Linked DNA regions of Homo sapiens. The protein of the gene in region 7 purifies or fractionates together with the protein of the main gene of each other region. This does not show direct contact. Each region holds a gene or a part of one and is shown on either strand. Other genes may lie near its edges.

The links.
Region 1: the proteins of PNKD (region 7) and CAMK1 purify together in Homo sapiens (affinity purification with mass spectrometry; 2 studies listed by BioGRID and IntAct, with this or other methods). This does not show direct contact.
Region 2: the proteins of PNKD (region 7) and ARFGEF3 purify together in Homo sapiens (affinity purification with mass spectrometry; 2 studies listed by BioGRID and IntAct, with this or other methods). This does not show direct contact.
Region 3: the proteins of PNKD (region 7) and TBC1D15 purify together in Homo sapiens (affinity purification with mass spectrometry; 2 studies listed by BioGRID and IntAct, with this or other methods). This does not show direct contact.
Region 4: the proteins of PNKD (region 7) and NUP85 purify together in Homo sapiens (affinity purification with mass spectrometry; 2 studies listed by BioGRID and IntAct, with this or other methods). This does not show direct contact.
Region 5: the proteins of PNKD (region 7) and PPP4R3B purify together in Homo sapiens (affinity purification with mass spectrometry; 2 studies listed by BioGRID and IntAct, with this or other methods). This does not show direct contact.
Region 6: the proteins of PNKD (region 7) and PRMT9 purify together in Homo sapiens (affinity purification with mass spectrometry; 3 studies listed by BioGRID and IntAct, with this or other methods). This does not show direct contact.

The regions. Positions count from the first base shown.
Region 1 is NC_000003.12:9,756,638-9,760,512, forward strand, and holds the end of CAMK1 (calcium/calmodulin-dependent protein kinase type 1), read right to left. Parts: intron 3,114-3,875; coding exon 3,035-3,113; intron 2,939-3,034; coding exon 2,851-2,938; intron 2,650-2,850; coding exon of another isoform or gene 2,550-2,649; intron 1,210-2,549; coding exon 1,092-1,209; coding exon of another isoform or gene 985-1,091; coding exon 902-984; coding exon of another isoform or gene 880-901; 3' UTR 710-879; downstream 1-709. Other genes in the region: OGG1 (N-glycosylase/DNA lyase), read left to right, coding at 130-179. UniProt on the Homo sapiens protein: Calcium/calmodulin-dependent protein kinase that operates in the calcium-triggered CaMKK-CaMK1 signaling cascade and, upon calcium influx, regulates transcription activators activity, cell cycle, hormone production, cell differentiation, actin filament organization and neurite outgrowth.
Region 2 is NC_000006.12:138,164,660-138,168,933, reverse strand, and holds part of ARFGEF3 (brefeldin A-inhibited guanine nucleotide-exchange protein 3), read right to left. Parts: intron 1-4,274. UniProt on the Homo sapiens protein: Participates in the regulation of systemic glucose homeostasis, where it negatively regulates insulin granule biogenesis in pancreatic islet beta cells. Also regulates glucagon granule production in pancreatic alpha cells.
Region 3 is NC_000012.12:71,891,253-71,895,526, reverse strand, and holds part of TBC1D15 (TBC1 domain family member 15), read right to left. Parts: intron 2,777-4,274; exon of another isoform or gene 2,722-2,776; intron 2,306-2,721; coding exon 2,203-2,305; exon of another isoform or gene 2,108-2,202; intron 1,730-2,107; exon of another isoform or gene 1,728-1,729; intron 1,203-1,727; coding exon of another isoform or gene 1,152-1,202; intron 842-1,151; coding exon 644-841; intron 1-643. UniProt on the Homo sapiens protein: Acts as a GTPase activating protein for RAB7A. Does not act on RAB4, RAB5 or RAB6.
Region 4 is NC_000017.11:75,215,290-75,219,563, forward strand, and holds part of NUP85 (nuclear pore complex protein Nup85), read left to right. Parts: intron 1-464; coding exon 465-534; intron 535-2,895; coding exon 2,896-3,017; intron 3,018-4,274. UniProt on the Homo sapiens protein: Essential component of the nuclear pore complex (NPC) that seems to be required for NPC assembly and maintenance. As part of the NPC Nup107-160 subcomplex plays a role in RNA export and in tethering NUP96/Nup98 and NUP153 to the nucleus.
Region 5 is NC_000002.12:55,546,257-55,549,446, forward strand, and holds the end of PPP4R3B (serine/threonine-protein phosphatase 4 regulatory subunit 3B), read right to left. Parts: 3' UTR 1,036-3,190; downstream 1-1,035. UniProt on the Homo sapiens protein: Regulatory subunit of serine/threonine-protein phosphatase 4 (PP4). May regulate the activity of PPP4C at centrosomal microtubule organizing centers.
Region 6 is NC_000004.12:147,681,204-147,686,135, forward strand, and holds the start of PRMT9 (protein arginine N-methyltransferase 9), read right to left. Parts: upstream 2,961-4,932; 5' UTR 2,785-2,960; coding exon 2,596-2,784; intron 1-2,595. UniProt on the Homo sapiens protein: Arginine methyltransferase that can both catalyze the formation of omega-N monomethylarginine (MMA) and symmetrical dimethylarginine (sDMA). Specifically mediates the symmetrical dimethylation of SF3B2.
Region 7 is NC_000002.12:218,339,576-218,343,849, reverse strand, and holds part of PNKD (probable thioesterase PNKD isoform 1 precursor), read right to left. Parts: intron 4,068-4,274; coding exon 3,952-4,067; intron 3,822-3,951; coding exon 3,709-3,821; intron 3,123-3,708; coding exon 3,064-3,122; intron 2,317-3,063; coding exon 2,224-2,316; intron 1,940-2,223; exon of another isoform or gene 1,870-1,939; coding exon 1,706-1,869; intron 351-1,705; coding exon 264-350; intron 1-263. UniProt on the Homo sapiens protein: Probable thioesterase that may play a role in cellular detoxification processes; it likely acts on a yet-unknown alpha-hydroxythioester substrate.

The DNA.
Region 1 (3,875 bases), on a different chromosome or scaffold from region 7:
GCAGGGGCTGGCAGTGGGCTGGGATGGTAGAAACTTCTCTCTCTCTTAGTCACCTCTCCCTCAGACCCTACTTCTGTTGATGGGTCACAGAAGGGGTCAGATAACTTAGTCTCATCACTTCTGATTTAGGAAACTTTTTCCGGAGCCTGTGGGGACCTTATGCTGGCTGGGCCCAAGCGGTGAGTGTACCTAGGTGTCCTCCCTAGGTTTCCTCTCCTCCAGCCCAGACCCAGTGGACTCTTCCACCACCGCCCCAGGTGGCCCTAAAGGACTCTCCAGCCACCCCTGTCCCAACCCCAGTGGATTCTCATTGCCTTCGGCCCTGTTCCCCAAGGACTCTTCCACCTCCCAACACTGTCACTAGTCTCACCAGCCCTGACCCCAGTGTACCCTCCTCCCCACACAGACTCCACCCTCCTACAGGTGCTGTTCAGTGCCGACCTGCGCCAATCCCGCCATGCTCAGGAGCCACCAGCAAAGCGCAGAAAGGGTTCCAAAGGGCCGGAAGGCTAGATGGGGCACCCTGGACAAAGAAATTCCCCAAGCACCTTCCCCTCCATTCCCCACTTCTCTCTCCCCATCCCCACCCAGTCTCATGTTGGGGAGGGGCCTCCCTGTGACTACCTCAAAGGCCAGGCACCCCCAAATCAAGCAGTCAGTTTGCACAACAAGATGGGGTGGGGGATATTGAGGGAGACAGCGCTAAGGATGGTTTTATCTTCCCTTTATTACAAGAAGGAACAATAAAATAGAAACATTTGTATGGAAAATGCAGTGAGGAGTGGTAGGGAAGCAGGTGAGGAGGGGACAGGGCAGAGAAACTCCCGGTTCAGGGAGGGAAGGGGAGCAGGCTGCCCCCAAGCCCTCCCACGCAGAGGATCATGACCCGAGGTCCAGGGCCCTAGAGCTGGTGGGGCAGTGTGGGGGACAGTTCTGTGCCCGGCTCCACGCAGCAGTCTCGACAGCAACAGCCAGCTGCCGGCCCTGCATGGGAAGACAGAACAGAGGTGGCCGCAGGGGCAGGCCCTCCACTCCAGCCCGGGTGCACCTTTGTGGACCACCCATGCCCTTCTGCAGAGCCCGCTCCTCACCCCCAGCCACTGGTGTCAGCAGCTCCCCATGGCTCGCCGTCTGCCCCTGCCCCTCCTGGCTGGTGCCCAGCTGCAGTTTCCTCATGTGCCGCACCACAGCCGTGGCATTGAAGGCTTGCTGGCATTGAAGGCATTGAAGGGAGAGGGGAGAAAGGACTTTTGAGAGAGTCAAGTCATGGGGCAGGGGCGCAGTGGGATTCTTGCAATTGTTCTGTTATTTTCATTCAGGAGTTATTTTATTAATTCCCCTAAAGCCCCCCAAAAACCTCTACAAGGCTTTATTATATATTTACACACACACACGCACATATGTTAGATGTATGTGTATCTATATATATAAATAGAAACATAACTATAATTCATATTAATATGTAATAGCAAACACTATAGCACTGTATGTCAGGCACTGTTCTAAGCACTTTACGTAGTAATTCATTTAATCTTCATGAAAGTCTTTGAGGTAGGTACTATTATCATTTTCAAAGGAGGAAACTGAGGCACAGAAAGCTGAAGTAACTTGCTCAGGTGTGTCTCTATTCAATATCTCCACCTAGGTGTCCCACACACCCCTCAAATTCACCATGTCTAAAACTAAAACCATCCCCCCAAAACATGTTTCTGTCCCTGTGATAACCATCTCAGTCATGGTACCACCACCATCCATTCTGTTCCCAGCCACAGTCTTGGGCCAGCCCTTGACATCTCTTTCCCCCAACATCCATTGCATCGTCATGTCTTGTCAGTTTCACCTCCTAAATGACTCCTGGATCAACCACTGTTCTCTGCCCCCTGTTGCTGCTACTGTGGTTCCAAACCCTTACCATCTCCTGCCTGTATCTCTGCCACAGCCTCCTAATGCGTCACCCAGTCTTTACTCCATGCCATTCTCTGCATCCTGAGAGCTCTTTCTTTTTTTTTTGAGGTGGAGTCTCACTTTGTTGCCCAGGCTGGAGTGCAGTGGCGCGATCTCAGCTCACTGCAACCCCCATCTCCGAGGTTCAAGTAATTCTCCTGCCTCAGCTTCCCAAGTAGCTGGGATTACAGGCACGCACCACCATGTGTGGCTAATTCTTTTATTTTTAGTAGAGACAGGGTTTTGCCATGTTGGCCAGGATGGTCTTGAACTCCTGACCTCAGGTGATCCAACCACCTCGGCCTCCCAAAGTGCTGGGATTACAGGCGTGAGCCACCATGCCTGGCCCTGAGAGCCCTTTCTATGCAGCAAATACTTGCCTAAGATTCTTCTGGGGCTCCTCAGTGCCCTCAGGATCAAGTTGGTGCTCCTCTGTGGCATATGAGGCCCTAAGAGGCCTGGCCCCTTACCTGCTTCTCTAAATTGGGCTCCTGCCTCTCAGTCCCCTCAGCCCCTCCAGTCTGGCCAGGCTTAGCACTTGCACTTCCCGGAATGGCTATAGACATTATTCCGCTATGCCTCACTAATTCCTACTTAACTGACAGCTCTGTCAGGTCATCACCACTTTTATGACCTTTCTCGGACCCCATAGGCTGGATCAGATGCCTCCTGAAGAATTACAGACTTCTTCCTCTAGACTTGGAGGTGAGGGACCCTCTCTGGAATAGAGAAGGTGTTGGGAGTGTTTGTTGAATGAAAGAGTGAATGAATGAAGTCCTTCAGTAAGGATCCCTAAGCAGTTACTGTGTGCCCAGTGTGATGCCAGGTGCTGTGCAAGCTGAGCCTGGGTAGGGATGGGGAGGAGTCCTGGGGAGGCTGGGACCAGAACTAGGGATATGGACTCACCTTCCACTTGCTCTTGGCAAAGTTCTTCTTGATCTGCTCACTCACCGACTGGTGGATATTCTTATCTAGAGCTGTATCTCCTGCAATCCTAGGATGGGGTTATGTGGTGGGTTGCCTATGAGGGCAGAAGCAGACCTGAGGGCCCCAAATCCCGCCCCAGCTCACAGGTTGTGTGAATTCTCACCATGGGTGCTGCAAGGCCTGCTCACAGGTGAATCTTTTCTCTGGGTCCTTCTCCATCAAGTGCCGGATGAAATCTTTGGCTAAACCCCCAAGACAAAAGCAAAGATAATGACAGCATGGTACTGCCTGTGTACTCCCCAAGAGCATACCCACTCCCTCAGGTCTGGCCTGGCATCAAGACAAAGAGGCCAAATCAGTCCATGCCCCACCCCACCCAACCTATGCTCTTCTTCAGGCCCTCCCACCCCGTGCCTTCCAGCTCTTTCCTTTCTCTCTTAAGAAAAACATATGGCCGGGCACAGTGGCTCATGTCTGTAATCCCAGCACTTTGGGAGGCCAATGCAGGTGGATCACGAGGTCAGGAGTTCAAGACCAGCCTGGCCAAGATGGTGAAACCTTGTTTCTACTAAAAATACAAAAAAAATTAGCCGGGCATGGTGGTGGGCGCCTGTAATCCCAGCTACTTGGGAGGCTGAGGCAGAGAATTGCTCGAACCCGGGAGACAGAGGTTGCAGTGAGCCGAGATTGTGCCACTGCACTCCAGCCTGGGCAACAGAGCGAGACTGCGTCTCAAAAAAGAAAGAAAAAAAAAAAAAAGTTGTTCTTGACTAATCTCAGTGCATTCACACTGATGATAAACGATAGTAGCTTCACAGGTTTGCTTCTTAATAGGGGGCACAAAAGGAGGATGAAAATGTTTATGGTGGTGTTTTAGACATTAGGGTGTCAATAGGGGAGAGGTATTTTCAAATAGACTATGTTTGAAGATTGAACAAATGAATGCCTAGTTTCTCACTCTGGGAGCCAAGCAGAAGGAAGTACCCAAGCAGAAGGAAGAAGGG
Region 2 (4,274 bases), on a different chromosome or scaffold from region 7:
GCTAGGGACCCAGTGGTGAGAACAGACACGATCCATGAATTCATGGAGTGCACATTCTCATTTCAAAGCATGATAAACGCCAGGAAGGAAAATACAGGGAATTAGGCAAAAGTGGAACAGGAGGTCCTACTGTGGACTGTGAGGTCAGGGCTTCCTGCTGGGGGTAATGAGACCACAAATGATTTATTTAAAGTAGATAAGGAGAGGTCACTCCGAGTGGAGGGAATAATAAGTTTGAAATGCTTGGAGAATCTCAACATCTTCCCTGACTCTGTCCTGCCACTTTGGTCCAAGCTGTCACCTTCTCTCACTTGGATGACTGTACCAGCCTCTGTTCTAGGCTTTTAGCTTTTGGGCTTGCCCCTGAAGCTGCAGTCTCTGCTTAACACAGTATCCTGAGAGACCCTGTCAAGACCCAGATGAGAGCATTTCCTCCACCCCAAATGACTCCCCATCTCATCCTTAGAGAGCCCAACAAGGACTTTCATGATCTGGTCCTCACTTCCTACTTCTCTCCCGTCGCTCCAGCCCCCTGGCTCCTTGCTCTTTCCCAAAGCCATCAGATGTTTTCCCAACTAGGAGCCTCCCTTTTAGTAAGGTTTTCCGTGAATACCCTATTTAAATGGCAACTCCCTCTTTATTCCAAGTACCTCCTATCTTCTTCACTATTTTATGTTTTCCCTTTCTTAGCTCTTATCACTCTCTTTGCTGTCATGTGTATTTTATTTATTTATCTTGATTACTGGCTGTCATCTCTCCAAGAATCTGTAAACTCTTGGATCTTTTTGCATGTTTTGCTCACCATGTTATCCCTAACACTTGGAACAGTACCTGGCACATAGTAGGTACTCACTAAATATTTGCTGAATTAATGAAGTAAGAGGGAGCACAGTGTAGCTGAGTAACTGAAAGAAGATCAGTGTGGCTGAAATTCAGAGAGCAAGGACCCCTCTCTCTCATGAGGGTCTCAGAGGGGGATGACCCTCTGTCTCATGAGGGTGGCATAGCACAAGGCTGTGGGGCAGGTAGGAGCCAGGCCATGTACGGCTGGACAGAACACACCAAGGACTTTTGTTTTTATCCTAATGGGATGCTATTCAGTGTTTTAACATGGCATGTCATGAAAAGATTGGGGTTTCCAAGGTGACACTACTTGGGAAAAAGAACTAGAGCAGACAAGGAAGGAGCAGTTAAGAGGGTGTTGCAGAAGTTCAGATAAAAAGAGAAGGCAGCTTATTCTGGAGAGCTGGCAACAGAGGTAGAAAGAAGTGAACAGGCTTGACATATATTTAGGAGGTAAAAATGAGCAGAGCTTGGGTGACGGACTAGGTAAGATGGCAAATTACAGAAATGTATCAAGGATGACTCTAGATTTCAGGTCAATGCAACTGGACAGGTGATGACATCAACTGATCATTTAGAAACACCAGAGGTGAGTGAGGTTGGGCAGTGAGGTAGAGGTGGGGAAGAACACACAGTCACTTTGAGCCTTGTTGAGCTGAGTGCCTGCAAGCCATTCAGGTGGAGATGTTCAGCAGGTAGCTAAGTTGCGGGGTGTGCGTTTCAGAGCACTGGTGTCGACTAGTGATATAAACACGGGCATCACATTCTCAGAAATGGAGCTGAAGCTGTGGGTATGTGTGTGTTCAACTCCAGAAGAGCTGGGAGTAAGAGATGAGGGCTCAAAGCTAACCCTTGAGAAACTCAAATATTTACAGCTGGGGACAGAATCTGGCACTAGCAAAGGAGACAGAATGGCTCAAGAACCAAGATGGAGCTGGTAGGGTGTGATCATAGAAGTCAAGGTAAAGCAGGTGCCCAGTTGTGTCCAGTGTCACCAGGAGGACCTCTGAGATGGGAATGAGAATGGTCTGCCAGCCGAATGGCTGTATGTTACTGTTCTTCAGTAACTGTGAGTTGGTGGGATGATGGAGGTGAAAGGCAGATGACAAAAAGATGAAGACAGAGTAGAAGGTGAGAACACAGATACAATTTCTACACTTTTTAAGAAGTTTGGCTGTGAAGTAATCACCTGTGGCTGGAAGAAAAAGCAGATGGGTAGATAGAGAGAAGGGTGCTGGTTGGATAGATGTTCCCTCTTCCCCTACTTGGCCTTCGTACCTCTAGTTTCTTTCCCCGCTCCTCCATTTTCCACATTCATTCTGTATAAGGCCCCTGATAGATATAAAATACTAAAAGTAGGGCTTGGTTGCTTCCAGCTCTCCTGTTCTGCAATTCTATTTCATCCCACCACAGCCTAGCTTGCAAGCCCCCAGGACTGCCAGTTTCTGAAGTTCTTTCTGCCTTTCCCCAAGCCAACCCTTCATCCAATTCATTCCTTTCTACTCCCTGGCCACGCCATTCCTCACTAACAAAAACAACCAACCAGATAACACTAAATAAAGAGAAGATACATACATATGCCTTATTAGTTATTCTGCAGCCATTAACACTGATTTTCAGAGAAGTGTCATGACAAAGTAGACAGAGTAGAAGAAGATGCTAAAGTTAAAAAACACATGACAATATGCCATATGCGGTATGACCTTTTGCAAAGGGAAAGACTCCAAAATGTCAACAGTGTTATCTCCGGATAGGGAGACTGAAGATTATTTTAATTTTTTCTTTATGTTGTTCCATTATTTGCAACATTCTAAAGTGAACATATATAACTCTTATAAATAGAAAAAGATGAATATTATTTAAAACTCAAACAAGTAGTTAAAGTATTGATTTACTTATTGAACATCTGCCTTCCACTATAGGTGCAGAAGCAACCAAAGAAGCATAAACGGCAGTCCCTGTGCTAAAGAGCTCACTACTCTGCTGACATGTATTGTTTTGATTGACGAGTATCCATTCCCCTGGCTTTTGAAGAAGCATCTTAATTTTACTTCCAGGAAGCCATTTTTCCCCAGCTCTGGATTTCAGTGGAACTTGTAGCCTAGGCCTAAACCAGTTATTCTACTTCATTCTTTGACTAGAGGACTGGTTCAAGGATACACTCATGAACCATCAGGACAAAGAGAACAAGGGAAACCAAGGATCAGGCAGGAGTGACTGGAGAAGTCCAGCTTTCTTGATATGGTCTAAATATGGTGATGATCACCTATCTCAAAATGATCTGAGTGAGGAATGATGCCTCTCTCCTTTGAGGGTCTCAGAGTCGGATGACCCTCTCTCCTATGGGGGTCTCAGTCTCAGTCTCTCATGAGTGTCTCAGTGGGGAGTGACCCTCTCTCTCCTGAGGGTCTAAGTAAGGGATGACCCCTCTCCCATGAGGGTCTCAGAGGAAAATGACCCCTCTCTCCCATGAGGGTCTCAGTGGGGAATGACTCCTCCCTCCCATAAGGGTCTCAGTCTCAGTGAGGGATGACCCCTCTCTCTCATGAGGGTCTCAGAGGGAGATGCCCCTCTCCCCCATGTGGGTCTCAGAGGGGGATGACCCCCTCTCTCCCATGAGGGTCTCAGTGGGGAATGACCCTCTCTCCCATGAGCGTCTAAGTGAGGATGACCCCTCTCTCCCATGATGGTCTAAGTAGGGGATGACCCCTTGCTCCTATGAGGGTCTCAGAGGGGGATGATCCCTGTCTCTCACAAGGGTCTCAGTGTCGGATGCCCCTCTCTCTTATGAGGGTCTAAATCAAGGATGATCTCTCTCCCATGAGGGTCTCAGAGGGGGATATCCCCTCTCTCCCATGAGGGTCTAAGTGGGGGATGACCCCTGTCTCGCACAATGGTCTCAGAGGGGGATGCCCTCTCTCTCTCATGAGGGTCTCAGACGGGGATGCCCCCTCTCTCTCATGAGGGTCTCAGAGGGGGATGACCTCTCTCTCCTAGGAGGGTCTCAGTGGGGGATGCTTCCTCTCTCCCATGAGGGTCTAAGTGAGGATGACCCCTCTCTCCCATGATGGTCTAAGTAGGGGATGGCCCCTTGCTCCTATGAGGGTCTAAGTGGGGGATGACCCCTCTCTCATGAGGGTCTACGTGAGAGGTAACCCCCCTTTCCCATGATGACCTAAGTAGCGGTTGACCTCCCCATCACATGATGGTCTAAGTGGGGGATGAGACGTGTTTTCCTGAGATGGTCTAAGTTTATTGTTGCCTCTTTTCATGAGATGGTCTAAATGTGTTGATTCATGAGCCCAAAACTGTGGAGACCCACGCAGAGCATGTCAGTCAACCCACAAAGAGCAGGACAAGATCCCTGAAACAGTGTCTAATTCCTAAATCACAGCTATTCTTGTAAGGGGTATTTTAGTTAAAGGAGTAAA
Region 3 (4,274 bases), on a different chromosome or scaffold from region 7:
TTTGTATTTCTCAGAATTGATTCATGACCCACTAGCTTCACTCGGCATTTTCTATAGTGTTTTATTCAATTAACAGATGTTGGTAATTTTAAAATAGTATTTGCAAGATAAACCCTTTAATTAAGCACTAAAATTTAGATATTTATAGTTTTCTAACTATGTACAAGCCTAGAATTGTAGCAAATTTAAATCTTACTGAGCACATATAAAGATCTGCCATAATTCAGGCCAAAACCCATCTTACTTAAAAAAGGAAGTATTACATGAGAATAAAAGCCCTAAAAGTAGTATCCTGACTAGCTGTCTCTGATGCCTATGAGAAAACATGCAAGTAAGGAACAGAACTAAGAGGTAATAGGAAAGGTTCGCTCCTCACTCTGCTATGCACCCAATGAAACAAACTTCATTATCAAAAGGTAATCAAAGAAGAGAGATCCAACATTAATCAAGAAAGAGTATAAGATAGAGAACAAATGAAGAACTTAGTGGCAGGACAAGCACTCATTGTCAGATATACTAGCAAAAAGTTGTTAAGAACAGATTATGGAAAGAAGCAGATATCACCAAAATTAAGTTTCTATTTCTATAGTACATGTTCTCCTGTTAAAATATAAGAGCTATATTAATACTAATCTTTACTCACTCTTGTGATGACTTCAAATCCTGGTTCTTCTTGTTGATTTATCTTTAGACCTGGAATAGCATCACTAAGAAAATCTGCCATTTCTGAAGGTGGTCGTTGATGTGTAGAGGGATCGCTGCCTCTCAAACTGTCAAAAATGTAGTTTGTGACTTTGGAAAATCCTATCATAGTTGCCGTATAAGGGTCCTTTTTAATTTTCTATGCAGTAGGAAGAAAAATATTAGCATTATTAACTCAAATAAAGAAAAACGAATACTCCATCATGAGCAAAAAAGCAAAGCTTTTTAAAAGAAAAGAAATCAGGACTAAAACAGAGTGTTCTAAGATTATCTTAAATTTGTATTTTCTTTCTTCAAAGAAAAATTTAAATTTTCTAAGCCAATCATTTCATTTGGTTAAAATAGCATAATAAATGACAAGTTAATGCTACTGATTGAATTGCAGATAAACAAATGATTTGCAGGCTTCACTCAATCTGCATACATCAGAAAACATACGCAGTGCTTACTTTCCAGTGGTGAATGGCCCACAACAGCTTTCTTCTGTCTAGCAGTCCTGCCTTCATACAAAAAAAATATTTCTTGAAGTGTGTACCACCATGCTATTCTGACACAAAATATTTGATGGCTAAATTTAAAAACTCATATTTAAATATTAGTTGACATTTTAATCTAATTATATGAATAGTAAATCATGCCAACAAGAATAATTTATTCTGGGACAGTGCTACCCTGGAAAACAGCAAAAGGTTTTTCTACTGTTAAGTGCCAGGGTAACTTCTGAAGCCCAAACTATTTGCTCATTCATATTTAGCAAAAACAGTTATTTATTAAATAATTCTTTTCACAATAAGTAAAATTATCCTTTTATTGTCCATTTTAAACAGTGTTTAGTTCTCTCTCTCATCCTCTTTCCTAAAGTTCCCTCTATATCTTATTAATCTTTACATCTTCAAAACCAGGAAAAGAATAGCTGGGACACAGCAAGCACTCACATATTTGTTAAATGAATAAGTGAATAAATAAATAAATGAATAAACCATCTCATTACTTTACATAGTCATCTGAGTGATAATTAAATTTACTTCTGCCTATTATTAAGTGCACATTTTTAGCCAAATGTAAGAACAGTACTCAAATATTCTTAGGGGAATAAGATTGTCATGACGTCAAAACAATCTACTTAAATTCAAACCAGATTTTTGCCTAAACCGATCATTAATGAATTCAAACTGGCCTACTCTGTGATCCCTGGCCTAATCAATAAAAGTTATGATACAAATCTACTGATGTCTAATTTTAGTATTATAATAAACTGAGAAATTTCCTTATGAGTAACTAAGAACCAAGGAAGCCTCTGAGTCTTGCAAATAACATGAAAACTTATTATTGTTTCTGTAAAATTAGAGAATAGTTCCAAAAAGATTACACACACACACACACATATCTATGTATATATATGTACCTGTCTCATTTTGCATACTCTCTGAGAAGATGAGAAGTACAGGGTATATAAAATAATGCAGTCAGAATAATACAGGATAGATTTAAGGAACATACTTGTATTAAACCATATGCTGGCTCATCAAGAAGATTTTCAAAAGACTGTGAAAGACTCTTATTCTGACAATTCACAAGAAGTGTTCTTTTATCCTGTGGAGATCTATAATAAAAAAGAGGATTTGTAGAAAATACTAACACACTGTATCAATTACTACATGAACAATTACTAACACAAATGTTCCTTACCAAAAAAAAAAAAAACCCAAAATATTTTAACAGTTTTCCATTAATACATTAGCAAATATTTAGTAACTATTTTAAAGGAGCTTCAAAACTACATGAAACATAAAATACAAAATTAACAAATACTAAATACACTGTATATAACGTAAATAAAACAAATATAAAGTGTATTTTTATTCCAGGTAAAGCCAAAAGGATTAAACTGGAATGAACCTAAATTCTTCTCTAGAATTATAGTAGAAAACCATTACAAGATAGCTGGCTTTATTATCATAAAAATTAAAGAAAGCCAAAACAGACATTAGGAGTCATCAGTATATAATATTTACATACAGAAAATATGTCCTATTTTGAAATCATTTCCACCTTCATTCACAGCTTAGTAATACTGCAATATAAGATGTTAAAAATGTAAGCTATATTAGTTATTTGATAAAGATCATTAATCATGCTAACCATAATTACAAACACACACATATGAACATATTTTAACAAGATTATTATGAATGGTTGGGTAATACTATGTTTTTAGTTCTTGCTTATTAAACTCTAGAAGCAAGTCTCTTCACATTTCTTAGTAATGACAGAATTTAACAAAATGTTTCCAAAACAGACATCTAATTTCTAGTCATCTGACAAATTATCCAGTCTTTTTTCTATTTAGTGAGTTTTATGACTTAGTCAGTTCTAATAAATCTACAAATTTTCTATGTTTAAAATAAAAATTAAATGTGTTATTTTGCTGCTATACACCTCCTGTTTATTATAAATGTTTGAGATAAGATCTTTAATAACAGTTATCCCTTCTCAATTCTAACATAACAGGATGTAACAGTAATGCTAGAGTGGATATGAAATCCAAAACAGGATCTTATATTCTTACACAGTCAGGAACAGCACTCGATCTGCATATACAATAGTAGCTAATAAGCCCCTTGGCCTTTCAAAAGGGGCTGAGGTTGAGTCATTTGACATAGGAGGGAAAAAAAATACATTTTAAAACATTTACTTTTCTGAATATTTTGAGGGGTCATAATTAATAGGCAGACTTACAGATTCTCTCACAAGGCATTTTTTAAATGATGGACTTTGAAATGTAGCATCAGAAAAGAAAAGTAGCTAATAAAGAAACAAAATTTTATTCCTAGCACAGTGCTGCTGGCACTGCCATCATTTTGTTTCTAACAATAAATTAAGTCAAATTATTTCTTTAAAACCCAAATAAAAAATGCTCATGAAAGTCAAACCACTGCCTATACATATAAAAGAGGAACAAATAGGCAACTTTCAGCTATCTGGGTTCAGATAACTCTATGGCTCCATATCTTAAACAGTGGCCACTAAACTGGAGATCCGAAGATGAAATGACTGCCTTACCAACAAGCAACCACAAATATTTTTTAAAAAGAAATTCCTTCTTTTCTTTTCTCATAACTATTGTTGTGTGATGGAGGGTGGAGGAAGCTCTAAGAAGGAGGGAAGATATGAAGAAATTAAAGACCTGACTGCTCCAAAGGAAATCAACAAAACACTTAAAAAGTACATCAGTCAAAGGACAAGTAGTATACTGTTACACCGCTAGGTAATTGCAGAGCTCACCATAAGGAAGACTGGTATTCCAAAATATTACCAGAATGTTTCCACCTGCTGGGTCACCACACTGATTTAATCTATAAATATATATTCTGGGAAGTTGATCTCTCATGCTAACATTATTCAAGACTTTCAAACTCATTGCAGCAGTAAGATGAACTTTTAATGATGCTAACCCAGCAATTCTATTACAGCCTGCTAAACAATTTGAAGAAAACTATAGTCTAGTATCACAACTATAGAAGCATATCTCCTGAAAATTCTGAAGTATATCCCAGGCTTTGGTGTGAGCC
Region 4 (4,274 bases), on a different chromosome or scaffold from region 7:
GACTCAACTTCCTGGGCTCAAGTGATGCTCCCACCTCAGCCTCCTGAGTAGCTGAGACTGCGGGGATATGTCACTACACTTGGCCAATTTTTATATTTTTTGTTGAGACAGGATCTTGCCATGTTGCTCAAGCTGGTCTCAAACTCCTAGACTCAAGCATTCCACCTGCCTTGGCCTCCCAAAGTGCTGGGATTACAGGAATGAGCCACTGCACCTGGCCAAGTTATTTTTGTAATGCACAGTAAAATAAAATCACAACCACTAAAACAAAATAGTGTTGGTCTCCATCCCACCACCTAACATCCTCACGCTGGCTCCCCTGTGGGAAATCCTCCAGTAGGATTGCAGTAACCTTTGGGTTAAGGAATGACTGTCATATGAGTCAAAGTCTGCTTTATCCCTTGGCTCTGAGAGCAAAGCTCAGGAATCATTTCAGGTGAAACCTGTCCCCATTTCTTCCTTAGGTCTCCATTTTGTCAGCAATGGAGCTCATCTGGAACCTGTGTGAGATTCTTTTTATTGAAGTGGCCCCAGGTAGGCATGGAATATCTCACCATAATCTCATAGGTGTCCCCTTCCATCTTCTGCTCTTTCCTCATCTTTCCTGTGCATGGTGATGAGTGTTTTATTCCTGAGAATGTTCTTTCCATCATTATAACCACGGGAAGTCGTTAGAAAACACCCAAAGAAACCTGACCGTTTTGTCAGGTGCTGCAAAAAGAATCATGCAGAGTGCCTCCAAGAAACCTAAACCCTGACAAGTACTGAGAAATATTAAACTAGTGTGTGAAAGGGGGTGTCAGTGTTAACATCATGGACTGGCCAAGCTTAAGAAAGTTTTATGAATGTGGGGTAGGATTAGGTGGTGAGAGGCAAAGTCACATTGGGAATTCTGTCATGAATCATTGGGACAGGGCAACTCTGTGTGTTAACTCTGCCAATGGGTATGAACTCTGCCAATGGGAATTTTTCTGTTGATCTTTTTTTTTTTTTGAGACAGAGTTTCACTCTTGTTGCCCAGGCTGGAGTGCAATGGCGTGATCTCAGCTCACCGCAACCTCCACCTCCTGGGTTCAAGCGATTCTCCTGCCTCAACCTCCTGAGTAGCTGGGATTACAGACATGCGCTGCCACGCCTGGCTAATTTTGTATTTTTAGTGGAGATGAGGTTTCTCCATGTTGGTCAGGCTGGTCTCGAACTCCCAACCTCAGGTAATCTGCCTGCCTCGGTCTCCCAAAGTGCAGGGATTCCAGGTGTGAGCCACCGTGCCCAGCCTTCTGTTGATCTTGAATTAAACTGTGGTCAGTATAGTGTCATGGCCTGTATGAGCTCTCTGTGGATCTGCTGCAGCTTTTTTGCATTTCTTTTAAGGATTTATGTTTGCTATTTTCCATAAATGAGTAGTAACCTCTGTGTAGCCCTAGCATTTTATTCATACTCTCACTAAAGAAGTGAGGAACTTGAAATTAGAGTTGGTTGTTCAGAGGCCTCCCTTCTCCAGTGGATTTTTGAGGAGGTTACAGTTGGCTCTTTGTATCTGCAGGTTCTACATCATGGATACGGAGTGCTGGCTGTACTCTGCCATTTTATTTCATTTTATTTTTATTGATTGATTGAGACAAGTTCTCACTCTGTCACTTAGGCTGGAGTGTGGTGGTACAATCACAGCTATTGCAGTCTGGACCTCCCAGGCTCAAGCGATCCTCCTGTCTCAGCCTCCTGAGTAGCTGGGACTACAGGCACGTGCCACCATGCTAGGCTAATTTTTTGTGTGTATATGCTGGGGGAGGGGAGACAGGGTCTTGCTCTGTCACCCATGCTGGAGTACAGTGGCGTGATCACAGCTCAGAAGCCTCGACTTCCTGGGCTCAAGCAATCCTCCTGCCCAGCCTCCCAAGTAGCTGGGACCACAGGCCTGCACCACCACGCCCGGCTAATTTTTGTATTTTTTGTGGAGAGGAAATTTCGCTATGTTGCCCGGGCTGTTCTTGAACTCTTGGGCTCAAGCAGTCTGCCCATCTTGGCCTCGCAAAATGCTGGGATTATAGGCGTGAGCCACCATTCCTGGCTCGGCTAATTTTTTATTTTTTTTTGTAGAGATGGGGTCTCCCTATGTTGCCCAGCCTAGTGTCAAACTCCTGGGCTCAAGCGATCTGCCTGCCTCAGCCTCCCAAAGTGCTGGGATTACAGACATGAACTACCATGCCCGGCCATATGTTTTGTTTTGTTTTGTTTTTTGAGACAGAGTCTCACTCCGTCACCCAGGCTGGAGTGCAGTTGTGCGATCTTGGCTCACTGCAACCTCTGCCTCCTGGGTTCAAGCAATTCTGCCTTAGCCACCTGAGTAGCTGGAATTACAGGCATGCGCCACCACGCCCGGCTAATTTTTGTATTTTTAGTAGAGACAGGGTTTCACCATGTTGTCCAGGCTGGTCTTGAACTCCTGAGCTTAGATGATCCACCTGCCTTAGCCTCCGAAAGTGCTGGGATTCCAGGTGTGCACCACCAGCCCCCTGGCCCTATGTTTTTATCATCATTGCATACCTGGCTGCTTGCTATCTAGTCATTGTTGGTTCCTAAACGGCCATTACTTATGTAGCTATTAAGTATTTGTGAAGAATCTGGAGTGTGGGGTAGTGAGGTCTGCATTCCATGTTCACCCCTTTCTGGGGTCAGTTAAAGATGGAGCTGCCTGGCACAGAAGTAATATTTGGTGAAAGTGCATTTGCTTTTTCCTAGCACAGTCTGTCATTCAGGACCATGTGTGTGACTGCTTAAAAGGGATAAACCTATGTAGTCAGCTTGTCTGCCTTAAAGTTCTCTGTTCCTTGGATAAAGGAACTTGCTGCAGATGAAGCTGAGGCTTTTGTGTGTGATGAGAGTCTCTCCTCCCAGCTGGCCCTCTCCTCCTCCATCTCCTTGACTGGGTCCGGCTCCATGTGTGCGAGGTGGACAGTTTGTCGGCAGATGTTCTGGGCAGTGAGAATCCAAGCAAACATGACAGCTTCTGGAACTTGGTAAGACAGGCCGGGCCCCCACCTCCCACCATGTGTCCTACTGTCCCTGGTGCTGCCGGGTGGGTCTGAGGACACCCACTGAGCCTCCAGCAGTAGGCTGGCTTTTGGAGTCTGTTACTATGGAGACTCTTTTGGATCTTTTCTTCCCTGCTCTATGGGAGAGTCTAAAACCGAGGTACCATGTAAGAAAAATAATGCTTTGAAGACTTTTCCAGGGTAAAAGGAAATTTGATTTCTTTGTGGATCTAAGGAAGAGAAGACACAAAAAGGAATACAAAACCGTTTTTTTTTTTTTTTTTTTGAGACAGGGTCTCGGCTGGGTGCGGTGGCTCATGCCTGTAATTCCAGCCAGCACTTTGGGAGGCCAAGTCAGGAATCTCTTGAGCCCAGGAGTTTGAGATTAGCCTGGGCAACAAAGTGAGACCCTCCATCTCAAAACAAATTAATAAATAAAAATATAAAAGAGAAAAGATAGTCCGACTCTGTTCCCCAGGCTGTTGTGCAGTGGCCTGATCTTGCTCACTGCAACCTCCGCCTCCTGTGCGGTCCTACCACCTCAGCCTCTCAAGTAGCTGGGACCACAAGTGCCAACCACCATGCCTGGGTAATGATATAAAACCAATTGACAGGGGCTGGGGTGCATACAGGGTTGGATGTAAATGAGCTTGCACATTACTTTGGATCATCAGTTTCGAAGTCAGCATGTCGTATATGTGTATATGGATGTATTTTCTATGTGTTAGGTATTTCCATTCACCTCTGCTGACTGACCCAATTGGGAGGTGGCAGGGAGGAGATCGCTAGTTGACTGGGCTAATGGAAAGTCAACTAAACTTATAAAGCCTGAAATTGGGAACAGATTGTGAGGACAAAAAAAAAGAAAAGAAAAGAAAACCTGGAATTCGGCCCGGCACGGTGGCTCACAGGAAGTAGTGGGCCAAATGTTTGAGTCTCTGATTGATTCGCTAAGGTTTGTTGTTGTCGTTTAGAGACAGGGTTTCGCTTTGCGGCCTGGGCGGGAGTGCAGTGATGCGATCATGGCACAATGCACCTTTGATTTCCTGGGCTCAAGCAATCCTCCCACCTCAGCCTCCTGAGTGGCTGGGACTACAGGCGCACACCACTACGCCTGGCTAGTTTTATTTTTTGTAGAGGTGAGGTTTCACTGTATTACCCAGGCTGGTCTTGAACTCCTGGGCTCAAGCAATCCTTCCACCTTGGCCTCCCAAAGTGTTGGAACTGCAAGTGTGAGCCACC
Region 5 (3,190 bases), about 160 Mb from region 7:
TAGACAAACTCTTACTAAAACACAGGCAAAGGGAATAATCGATTGAGCCTGTTGAAGGAGATGCCACCACTGGGTGTTGGTGTTTAAGAGAAGTGACCCTAAGATTTCTGTAGTCTGTTTGTTTAAAGATAAACCACAATAATAGGAGACCTTTCTTTCAGAAACTTGCAGGCCGGGTGTGGTGGCTCATGCCTGTAATCCCAGCACTTTGGGAGGCCGACGCAGGAGGATCACTTGAGGTCAGGAGACCAGCCTGGCCAACATGGTGAAACTCCGTCTCAACTAAAAATACAAAAATTAGCCAGGTGTAGTGGCGGGTAACTGTAATCCCAGCTACTTGGAAGGCTGCAGCAGGAGAATCGCTTGAACCCGGGAGGCGGAGGTTGCATTGAACCCGAGCTCACGCCACTGCATTCCAGCCTGGGTGACAGAGCAAGACTCCATATAAAAAAAATAAAATAAAAAAGGCCAGGCATGGTGGCTCATGCCTGTAATCCCAACATTTTGGGAGGCTGAGGGGGTGCAGATCACTTGAGGTCAGGAGTTCAAGACCAGCCCGACCAACATGGTGAAACCCCATCTCTACTAAAATACAAAAATTAGCTGGGCGTGGTGGTGCATGCCTGTAATGCCAGCTACTCGGGTGGCTGAGGCTGGAGACTCGCTTCAACCTGGGAGGTGGAAGTTGCAGTGAGCGAAATCACACCACTGCACTCCAGCCTGGGCAACAACAGAGCAAGACTCCATCTCCAAAAAACAAACAAACAAACAAAAAACTTCCAGTCTTGTAATATCCCACGTCCACCCTTTTCTAAGTACAGGATACTCCTGAGATTTAACTTATAATCACATTTTATCTCCTTAAGTCTACCATTATAAACTTTTAAAAAAGGATACCAAAATTAGTGTAACAGGATTTACTCATTTCAGTTACACAATTCCAAACTTTCCCCTGCAGGAAAACCAGTATTTACATTTGTTATATTTTCATCACTAGATGGCTAAGAGGAAATGCTAGTGATTAAAACACAGAAATCTGTTTCATGTAACTTTTTATTAAAAATAGTTTTTATATTGGACACATGTTTACAGATACCATTTTAAGAAGACCTAAGGCATACAAATGTGGGCTTTTGGCTTGCTTCACTGAATGAAGATAAAGATATAAAAACCCAGATCTGCCTGAGGGTAGTCGTTTAAAGACAGCCGCTAACATGGAATTCTCACAATTGTTCTTTTGAGGGATATTTTAAGCCTTGTTCTCTTATCGTCGTAGGTAAGCACTTGTACCATGAAAACCGTAACCTGTACTTCAAGAAAACATTCACATTTCTGCTACAAGAAAAGGTTCTGATGATTTAAATGTTTAAGACTTATGGCAGCTCTTCAGAAAGAAAAAGGAAGTCTTCATAAGATACAGAGATAGGGAGGCTGAGGCGGGTGGATTGTGAGGTCAGGAGTTTAAGACCAGCCTGGCCAAGATGGTGAAACCCCGTCTCTACTGAAAATACAAAAATTAGCCTGGCATGGTGACGGGCACCTGTAATCCCAGCTACTCAGGCTGAGGCAGAGAATTGCTTGAACCCAGGTGGCGGATGTTGCAATAAGCCGAAATCGTGCAACTACACTCCAGCCTGGGCAACAGAGCGAGACTCAAACAAACAAACAAAAAGTAACTAGGAAAGTGTTTTACATGTGGGCTTATTTTAAGAAGAAATTTACTAAAAGCTGAGAGATGGGTCTCGATAAAATTTGATGATTCAAAGAAAGTGGATGGGAACTTTACTGATCTTAGTTTAAAATATCCTGAGTCACCTGCCTTATGAGGTGGAAGGTCTTTCTTTCTTACTATATGTACACCTTTAATTGAAAAGGTGAGAAAAGCTCCATACTGTGATGCTATGATTTCCCCAAGGCTTACCTTCTATAAGTAGTCACTGATAAAGTGCCATTGACCCGCATTTGTTTAGAATTATTTCATTAAAATTGGGGTATGATCTAGCAGTTTATAATAAATATTTATGGATAATTTTATTGGCTTTTAAAAGATACTGTAAAATTGACATATCTCAAAATGGAGTTAATTTATATTTACAACAAACCAAACACAAACATCAATTATGGAATTACAGGGTCACATTTTAATTCCTGAATTTTACAGTTTAGCATTAATATCACCACATGTATACAAATGGTGTAAAACAAGTACAGTGGTATTTTTTAATACAAAATAAACATCTGTTTTATGGAAAAAACTATACTTCATATCTACACAGACAGCTCATCTTTTCCAAACAATAGCCAAAATTAAAATTAACTACAAAATCTCCAAAACAGGGGAAACTGCTTTAGATTAAACGATTCCAGGAAAAATGGACCCGTAACACATTACAAGGGTGATCTAAAGATTGTGGCTGGAATTACTGTTAAAGTTTTTTTTTCCCAATGCATTAAATTGTATTTTGGGGAGATTTTTCTCACTTCGGCATGATCTCAGATCATAGATGAGCAAACTAACATTAAAATATTTACAGTTAACTTGTTGCTCTAAAAATAAAACTTAACTGTTTGCCTCAATTTATTTTTAAAATTCACTTACGTATATGGAATGTGCTTTTACTCTTCTTAAAAAAGCAGCTTTCATATCACACCCTTGTTTACAGAAAAGCTACATGTGCTGCATGCTGACTTTGACACTTAAGTAGCTTCTTGGATCAAAATGGCTTCTAGATACTAAATGCCACTTAATTCAGCACTATTCTTGGTTGGTCTGTATAAGTAACACTTTAAAACTTGCAGCTCTGGAAAGACAGAACTTTACTAACAAAGTAGAAAGTGATTTCAAAGTATCTTCCACAAAAGATTGTACTGGTAGGCGGTTGACAACATTCTGTTCGATCTACTTTCAAATTTCTAGAGAAAATCATTTTGGAATACTACTGTACTGATTCTTGGCCTTCGTTGTCTCTAAAAGTGCTGATTTTAACATTATCTTAAAACTGTCCAGTTTGAATTGAGCTTGTTTTCATCAATATACATATTGAAAATTCCTGGTGTAGAAAACTCAACATGTGCTGAATACGGGGTGTACTTCCCTTCAACTACCTAAAAGGCTGAACTTTTGTTAAATCTTAAAGAAATGGTCCCAACAGCTTAACTTCATTTTTTTAATGATAGTTGAATGTGTTTT
Region 6 (4,932 bases), on a different chromosome or scaffold from region 7:
CTAGCCAATGCTCTCTCAATATCTTTAAATCTGTTACCTCCTCTCCATTCCCACAGTTACAACCTAATCTGGCCCTTGTAACCACTTGCTGGACTACAGCAACAGCCTTAACGCTGTCACTCTAATTCCAACTGCATCTCCCTCCATCCATTCTCCATGCTGCAATACTGTGGAAAGAGGGAAAGCTTTAGTCATTAAAACATTTTAAATCATCTTCACATATTTTATACAAAAGCGTTGATATTTGGAACTGAATCTTGAGGGAGTTTACTAGAGAGACAAGGATAAGAAAGGAGATTCTGGCCGGGCACGGTGGCTCATGCCTGTAATCCCAGCCCTTTGGGAGGCCAAGGCAGGCAGATCACCTGAGGTCAGGAGTTGAAGACCAGCATGGCCAACACGGTGAAACCCCATCTCTACTAAAAATATAAAAATTAGCCAAGCACGGTGGCGAACACCTATAATCCCTGCTACTCAGGAGGCTGAGGCAGGAGAATTGCTTGAACCCAGGAGGTGGAGGTTGCAGTGAACCGAGATCGCACCACTGCATTCCAGCCTGCGTGATACAGTGAGACTCTATAAAAAAAAAAAAAACCCCGCACAGATTATATGAAATGGATCAGAGGGTCTACAGATAAGTGGCTTGGTGTGGCCGGAGTTTGGGTATGGGGAATAGAGTAGCAGGCAATGAGCATTTTACAGGGGGCCCATACAAACAAACACAGACTTTGTTCGGCAGGAAACAGACTAGTTGCTTACCCTACTGAATGTCAGGCATTGCACTACAAATTTTAAATATACTTTTTTATTTTTTCTTTTTGAGATGGAGTCATACACTGTCGCCCAGGCTGGAGTGCAATGGCACAATCTGGACTTACTGCAACCTCCGCCTCCCGAGTTCAAGCAATTCTTCTGCGTCAGCCTCCTGAGTAGCTGGGACTACAGGCACATGCCACCACGCCCAGCTAATTTTTTATTTTTATTTTTTTTTCTGAGACAGAGTTTCGCTCTTGTTGCCCAGGCTGGAGCGCAATGGCGTGATCTCGGCTCACCACAACCTCTGCCTCCCAGGTTCAAGCAATTCTCCTGCCTCAGCCTCTCGAGTAGCTGTGATTACAGGCATGCACCACCACGCCCAGCTAATTTTGTACTTTTAGTAGAGACGGGGTTTCTCCATGTTGAGGCTGGTCTCGAACTACTGACCTCAGGTGATCCACCCGTCTCTGCCTCCCAAAGTGCTGGGATTACAGGCGTGAGCCACCGCGCCCGGCCTAATTTTTTAATTTTTAGTAGAGACAGGTTTTCACCATATTGGCCAGGCTGGTCTCAAACTCCTGACCTTGTGATCCACCCGCCTCCGCCTCCCAAAGTGCTGGGATTACAGGCCTGAGCCAGCACACCCAGTCTAAATATACTTTTAATACCCAGTAAACATTTTTAAGAGAGGCTGCGTCCCTGTTTCACAGAAGAGGAAACTAAGAAACAAGTAACTGAGGAAAGATCACTTGAGTTGATCCATTTTTCTATTGCTGCCTACCAAGAGAAGCAAACTGTATCTCAACATATCATCTCCTCCTCAAGTAGGACAGCTGGTCCTGAAATTTACACTAAGTTTACATGAACTACAAACATCTAGACGCTACTGACATTTAGTGGGTAGAGATCAAGGATGCTGCCAAACATACTGCAATGCACAGGACACCTCCCCTCCCCCATAACAAAGAATTATCCCATTCAAAATGTCAATAGTGCTGAGGTTGACAAACCCTCAGTCTAAATGAAGCAAAGTAATTGCAATTTTAAGTTAAATCATTTTTCGTAATTTAGATTCTAAAAGTACTTCAAAAAAGAACAGCATTTCAACAGAGTAATTGTTGCAAATAATCCAATAATTGAAGTTTAAAGAACGCATCATTAAATGATAATCACTTTAGGCTAATTACACACTTTATTCAACTAGAGGCCCACTATATTCCTACTACACACAATATAACAAATCCAAAAGCCCTCAAGCCAGGGCATGCTTAAATTAGATATAAGGAGAAGAGGATCACGTGAGACCTCATTTCCAATTCGAGGGCCTTTAAAATTTTAAACGAGATGAAAGTTTTGAAACTGAGAAATGACAACATTTGACTTTTGTTGCAAAAAGCTAGCTATGTTGACACAGACTGCAGGAGAGAGCTCAGTTGAGAGCCGACTGCAACAGCCGGCAGATGACTGAAGCTCGAACCAGGGTAGTAAAGGGGAAGATGGTGAGAACTGGTAAGATTCTGGACATATTTCGAAGGTGAAGACGGCAGGATTTTCCTCTGGGCTGGTCGTAGGTGTGAATAAACGAAAGATGTCAAGGTTGAACAGTAAACATTAATAGCAAACACCCAACCAAGCACCCTAGCCCCTCCGCCTTTTTTCTTTTCTTTTTTTTTACGAGGACGTTGGATCGGCCAGCAAGTGAGAAAAAAGGGCCCTAAATATTAACAGCAACCACCCACCCAGGCACCCTAGCCCCTCCGCTTTTTTTTTTTTCTGTTTTTTTTTTTTTTTTTACGAGGACGTTGGATCTGCCAGCAAGTGAGAAAAAAGGACCCTCACCTTCACGTCGTGTTTCAGCTCCGGCGCCAGGCTGAGCACGAGGAGGTAGTGGGCATAGGCAGTGCCGAAGTCCTGGACGCCCAGACAGTGCTCTGCGCTCTGCAAGGACCGCGACACCAGCTCGTCCCGGCCGGCTGCCCCAGCGCCACCCCCGGCGTCTCGGCGGGACCTGGGCCGCGAGTTCGACATGGCAGTCACCACTTGTATGGCCAAAGGGAAGATATTTTGTAAACGTAATTAGAAAACTCTCTCGATGCTACACTTCCAGGGACCAGACAACTGCTCAAAAAACAGCACAGCAAAGTTACCCTCCGCCGCGGGTGAACTCGCCAACCCCAGCCCAGGCGGAAGCTCCGCCCCGTCCTGGCCCCGCGGGCGGCGCAGACCGTGACGCATACCCCACTATTGCGCACCTGGCCAGCGGCGCACGCTACGCGAACGTCAGCGCGCCCGACGTGGGCACGTCACTGCTGCCCATTCCCGCAGGAGCGACCACTGTGCGTGAGCATAGGAGAACGTCTGTGGCAGGACCTGTCCGGTCTTGCGCCCTTTTTTTTTCCCGGCTGAAAGCAGAGCTTTCTCTCCCTCTTGCACTCCGGGAGTGTGTGGCTTTCGACTGCAAGACCCTGTTGTACAGACCCAGGCAGCGCGAAGCGCCACCCGCTCATGAGGGACGGTCAAGCATTTGTGATGATGCTTAAGACATTTTGGATCGTGATGCACAAAATTTCAAGACCTGAAAGAACCTGGAGATAACAAAAGCATCTCAGACGTGGTAGAGGAAATGCTTTCACAGGCATTTCAAATCATTCTCACAAAACCTGGCTAGGTGGACCTTTGGATCACACTCGTCTTAATGATGGCAAACGTGGTATCTTGAGAAGTGACTTGCTGGAGGTCACACAACCAGCTAGTGGCATAGGCATGGTTCAAATCCAAGTTCTCTGACCACCTATCTGTTCAGTTATAAGATGAGCTTAGGGGTTATTTCACTGTTCGTGTCTTATCACTGTATAGTGTTTACATTAATACAAAGTTTTTCCACATTCAAGTGTGGCCTCTAAGATACAGATTCGAAACTCAAAGGGAGGGGAGCATAGTTATTACGGCTGAAAAGTTATTTTTGTCCCCATTTTCAAATTCATTAATGGATAATATCTTAAATCGAGCATTTTGCATATCACACTAATACATTTTGAGGGCTCCTCTAATTCTCAAAAACACGTCATGCATTTTTGCCTTCTCTTCTGATCCAATTATCTGAACTACCCTTTTTTCTGAGCACTCGCCTGTGTAAATCCTAATCCGTTTTTCAGGTTCCAGCTCACTACATTGTGAGCTATTCTTAATCACTTTTGTGACCTTTGCACCTAGCGGATTATGATGCAAAGTAAGGACTTTGATTTTTTCTTCTTTCTTTTCTTTCTTTTCTTTTTTTTCTTTTTTTTTTTTTTTTTTTTTTTTTTTTTTTTGAGACAGAGCCTCACTCTGTCGCCAGGCTGGAGTGCAGTGGTGCGATCTCGGCTCACTGCAACCTCTACCTCCCAAGTTCAAGCGATTCTCCTGCCTCAGCCTTCCGAGTAGCTGGGATTACAGGCATGCACCACCACGCCCGGGTAATTTTGTCTTTTTAGTAGAGACAGGGTTTCTCCATGTTGGTCAGGCTGGTCTCAAGCTCCTGACCTCAGGTGATCCGCCCGCCTCAGCCCCCCAAAGTGCTGGGATTACAGGCATGAGCCACTGCACCAGGCCAATTATTTGCATTTTTTCGTGGTTTATCTATAACTTCAAGATTTTCTGTACATAGAATAGGTCATTTGAAAAAATGGAATGACACAAATAACATGGAACATCTGGTCACCTTAAGAAACTGGAATTGGCAACAGCCTTTCATGCTAAAAACTCTCAATAAATTAGGTATTGATGGGATGTATCTCAAAATAATAAGAGCTATTTATGACAGACCCACAGCCAATATCATACTGAATGGGCAAAAACTGGAAGCATTCCCTTTGAAAACTGGCACAAGACAGGGATGCCCTCTCTCACCACTCCTATTCAACATAGTGTTGGAAGTTCTGGCCAGGGCAAACAGGCAGGAGAAAGAAATAAAGGGTATTCAATTAGGAAAAGAGGAAGTCAAATTGTCCCTGTTTGCAGATGACATGATTGTATATTTAGAAAACCCCATCATCTCAGCCCAAAATCTCCTTAAGCTGATAAGCAACTTCAGCAAAGTGTCAGGATACAAAATCAATGTGCAAAAATCACAGGCATTTCTATACACCAATAACAGACAGAGAGCCAAATCATGAGTGAATTCCCATTCACAATTGC
Region 7 (4,274 bases):
TGCCCTGGGGCCTGCAAGGCTCCCAAGAGGCTGAAGGCTGACTGGCAGGGGAAGGTAGTGTGAGAAGCAGAGGTGGTACGGAGCCAGCACTCCAGGAAGAAGGGAGGCCAGAACTCTGTCCCTACCCCTAGAGGTGGAGCTGTGTCGCTTCTGGGCCAGGAACTGGGCTGGCCTGCTTTCTAGGGGAGTGAGGGGGTGGGAAGGCCCTTGTCCCAGGCTGAGCGTGGGGCTGGAGGATGGGGAGTAGTAAGGGGGTGTCTCACCAGGCCACAGAAGGGTGTCATCCCCTAGCCCCAGCACAGTGTCCAGTGAGCTCAGCATGGTCTCTGCATTGCCCTCAAAGGTCCGCCCTGGGTGGGGGTTGGAGGGTATGTCACAAGGTGCCAGGATAACACAATATGGCATAAGGCACACCCAGACAGGTGGGAACCAGCTTGTAATGCTCTGGCTGGCCGTCAGCCCTGACTGTGCACTTTCCAGACCCACCCCAGGCATCTATTCCCTCCTCACTGGGAACTGGGCCCAACTGGTCACCCCCTGACCAAGCCCATCCGAGGCCTCCGTTGCACACAGTGACACCTGAAGGGAGGGGCTGTGGAATCTTCGGGCTGCAGGCCCCAGGCTTGGTAGACGCAGGGCTGCTCTTTCCCACGGAACACTTCTTCGCCTAGGCTGCCCTTTGGGATTTCATGCAGCCTGGGACTTGTGATCCTCACCCACCCACTCACCTAGCTGTTCTTAACTTTTCATAACCTAGTCCTGCCAGTCACTGTATCAGAGAACCAGTCTCCACCCAGGGGAAACTAATTCCCTGCAGGGCTTTACTCAGCTACAGACATTCTCCCATTCTGTCCCGCAGCTGGCAGAAGTCTTTTTTATTTTTGAGACAGAGTCTCATTGTTGCCCAGGCTGCAGTGCAGTGGCACAATCATAGCTCACTGCAACCTTGAATTCCTGGGCTCACCACCACACTGGCTAATTTTTGTATTTTTTGTAGAGACGGGGTTTCACCATGTTGCCCAAGCTGGTCTTGAACTCCTGGGCTCAAGCAATCCACTTGCTTTGGCCTCCCAGAGTTCTGGGATTACAGGCCTGAGTCACTGCTCCTGGCCTATATTATTTATATTATTTAAATTTTTTTTTCTGTTTTGTGACAGAGTCTCACTCTGTCTTCCAGGTTGGAGTGCAGTGGCGCGATCTCAGCTCGCTGCAACCTCTACCTCTCGGGTTCAAGCAGTTCTCCTGTCTCAGCCTCCCTAGTAGCTGGGATTACAGGCATGCACCACCATGCCCGGCTAATTTCTGTATTTTTAGTAGAGACGGGGTTTCACCATGTTGACCAGGCTGGTCTTGAACTCCTGACCTCAGGTGATCCTCCCACCTCAGCCTCCCAAAGTGCTGGGATTACAGGCATGAGCCACCACGCCTGGCCTATTTTAAAATTTTTTTGTAGAGACAGTCTTGCTATTTTGCCCAGTCTGGTCTCCAACTCCTAGCCTCAAGTGATCCTCCTGCCTCAGCCTCCCAAGGTGCCCCAAGGGAAGTCTCAAGGATTAAAACCAATCTGAGTAACACAGATGGAAGTAACTGCCACGGCAACATCTGTGCTAAAACTAAGGCTTCAGTGCTCTCCATGGGACTGTGGCTGCCCTGGCTTCTGTCTCTCCCTCCTCTCCCAGCTCCTCTCTCTTTCGGGGAAACTCACCACAGCCAGAGAGGAAGAGCAGGTCCCCTGAGAAGAGGCAGGAGGGACCCTTGTAGGGCTCCCCATCCAGTAGGTAGACCAGATGGCCTTGTGTGTGGCCAGGTGTAGCCAGGGCCCGGATCTGAAGCCGTCCCACGCTGACCACATCTTGATGACACAGGGGACTGGGGAACAAGGGAGCAGGGGACAGAAGGTATTGGATCTGTGCCATGCTGATCCCTGTCCCCATCCCAGGCCCAAGGGGCTGGGTGATTCACAAGAGAGTGGGCTTCCATACAAAAGAAGTCACCCCAGTGCCTCGGGTCTCAGGTCCGAACCCTCCCCCTTTCCTCTTTTGGGGACTATGGCTGGATCAGTTGGGGGATGGGCAGTGCCAGTCTTCAGATAGGCTGGGATTGGGCCAGGAAGGGCACTGGCAAAGATCCACCTGCTGATACCCCTGAAACACTTCACTGAAGGCTGGGGGTGGGGGAAAGGGCCCATGGAAGGGCCATCCCTTGCCTAGGTCAGGGACTTACTGGGTGAGGTAGGGGATGCCGTCCTGAGGGCTCCCGTACACCCGACAGTCCCGGTGCCGCCGGCTGAGGTCACGGTTCCCTCCACTGTGGTCCCTGCAGGACAGCAGAGACAGGCAGGGGGCTTCGAGGGGCAACTGTACCTAAGCCCCCTTCTTTACCACAGCATCTCCAGGCCTTTAAGTGCTGGGGCTGTGGCTTCTGGACTAAGCCAAGTTGTCCACACCTCTAGGCCTTTGTTCAAGCTGTTCCCTTGCCCAGAACATCGCCCCCAACAACTCAAGCTGGCCAATGCCAGCCGAGCTTCCTGAACCCTCAGCTCAGGTCATCATCTTTCAATTCTCCAAGTGGATCTGATCACACCGTGCCTGGGCCTCCCATCCCTGTTCCCTGTGCCAACTGTTACCTAAATATCACATACTTCTTTTTTGAAGACAAGGTCTCACTATGTTGCCCAGGTTGGGCTTGAACTCCCAACCCTCTTGCCTCCGCTGTTATATACTTTGATACAGGGCTACCTCCCCTATTGGTCTTAGAATTTCCTTGATGGAAGAGTCATAACTTTTGTCCATGCCCAGTGTGCAGTAGGTATCTAATACATGCCCATGAAATGAAAGAGAAATGACTGCCCTGCCCTCTGGGGCTTCAGAAGCTTGATCAATGGAGTGGTGGGAGACTGTCCCCTCTCCTCCCTCCCTGCTGGTGTCCAGGTGACTTCACGAGGAAGGCGGGTGCCGGCCCGTACTGACTTCTTGATCTCTGGCCCCGGCCGTCCTCAATGGGCCCAGTCCTGGCAAGCCCAGCTGGGACAAGGGTGGGCCAGGGAAGACGGGAGCCCCTTACCAGTGCTTGTGAGTACACAGAATGGCGACCAAGGTGACCCCTTCCTTTTCAATGGAAGCCTGCGAGAGAGAGGAGGTTTGGAGACTGGGGAGCAGGATGCAAGAGGCACTTGAAGCAGCAAGAGCCAGGAGTGTGGGCGCTGGTGGAGAGGAGAGGAGAGCATGGAGAGATGAAGCAGAGGAAAGGGATGGAGCTGGAGGGGAGAGATCCAGGAATGTGAAGCACGGGGCACATGGAGGCAGAGGGACACTTGTACATAGAGAGAGGCAGACACAGAGAGATAAGGAATGGGAGGGAAAGACAGAGAGACCCAGATACTGACAGACAGAGGTGACAGAAAGAAAGGGGGTCTGAAGGGGGCCAATGGGAGTGAAAGCCAGCCTGGAAACTCACTAGACCCAGAGTCCTGGGCCAACACCCCCAGCCCTCTGGCTCTGCATCCCCCACTCCTGCTCTCCCCTTCTGCCCAGCCATGCCCTGTACCCCCCTTCCCCAGGCTATGTGTGCGCATGTGCACGTGTGAACATGGAGCATATGGGACACATCCCACGGGCAGACGGACAAGGGTCAGCCCTCTCTAGCAAGGCGAAACTGCCAGTCCCCAAGGTGACTCCAGGCACCCCCTGCTCCCTGCCCTCCCCTCACCTGCACAGCCCGAGGGTCTGAAGGGTCCACAGCCACAGCCAGCTGGGCCTGGGTGTCGATGATGAGGTAGCTGTAGTTGTCCGAGAGGACAGGGATGGGAAGCACCTTCACTCCTGGGGACAGAGATGGGCTGTGGGCGGGGTAACAGGCAGGGAGCCCAGGGGCTGGGGTATGTGAAGGGGAGCAGGCGGGGAGGGTGGGGGCACAGAATGGGGGATGCTGGCCGGGGCAGTCAGAGCTCACCATTGAAGAGGCGGGGCTGGGTTTTCGAGTGGCCTTTAGGGTAGCGATTCCGAGCCCTGCGCAGCTGCTGTCGGTAGAAGAGGTACCCGAGCCAGGTGCGGGTGTACAGGCTGTACCTAGAGGGCGAGTGGGTGGCCTATGATTAGCCTTTTCTCCCTAGCTCCCCTAGACTCCTTCGTGATGCCTGCAGGCCCCACATCTCCATTCCTTTGGTGACCCTGTGAGCCAATGCAATTCCACTCTCACTTATTATGTGCCTACTGTTTGCCCTGCTTAGCACTCAGGACAAGATGGAGAATGAGACGGACACACCTAGAACTCAA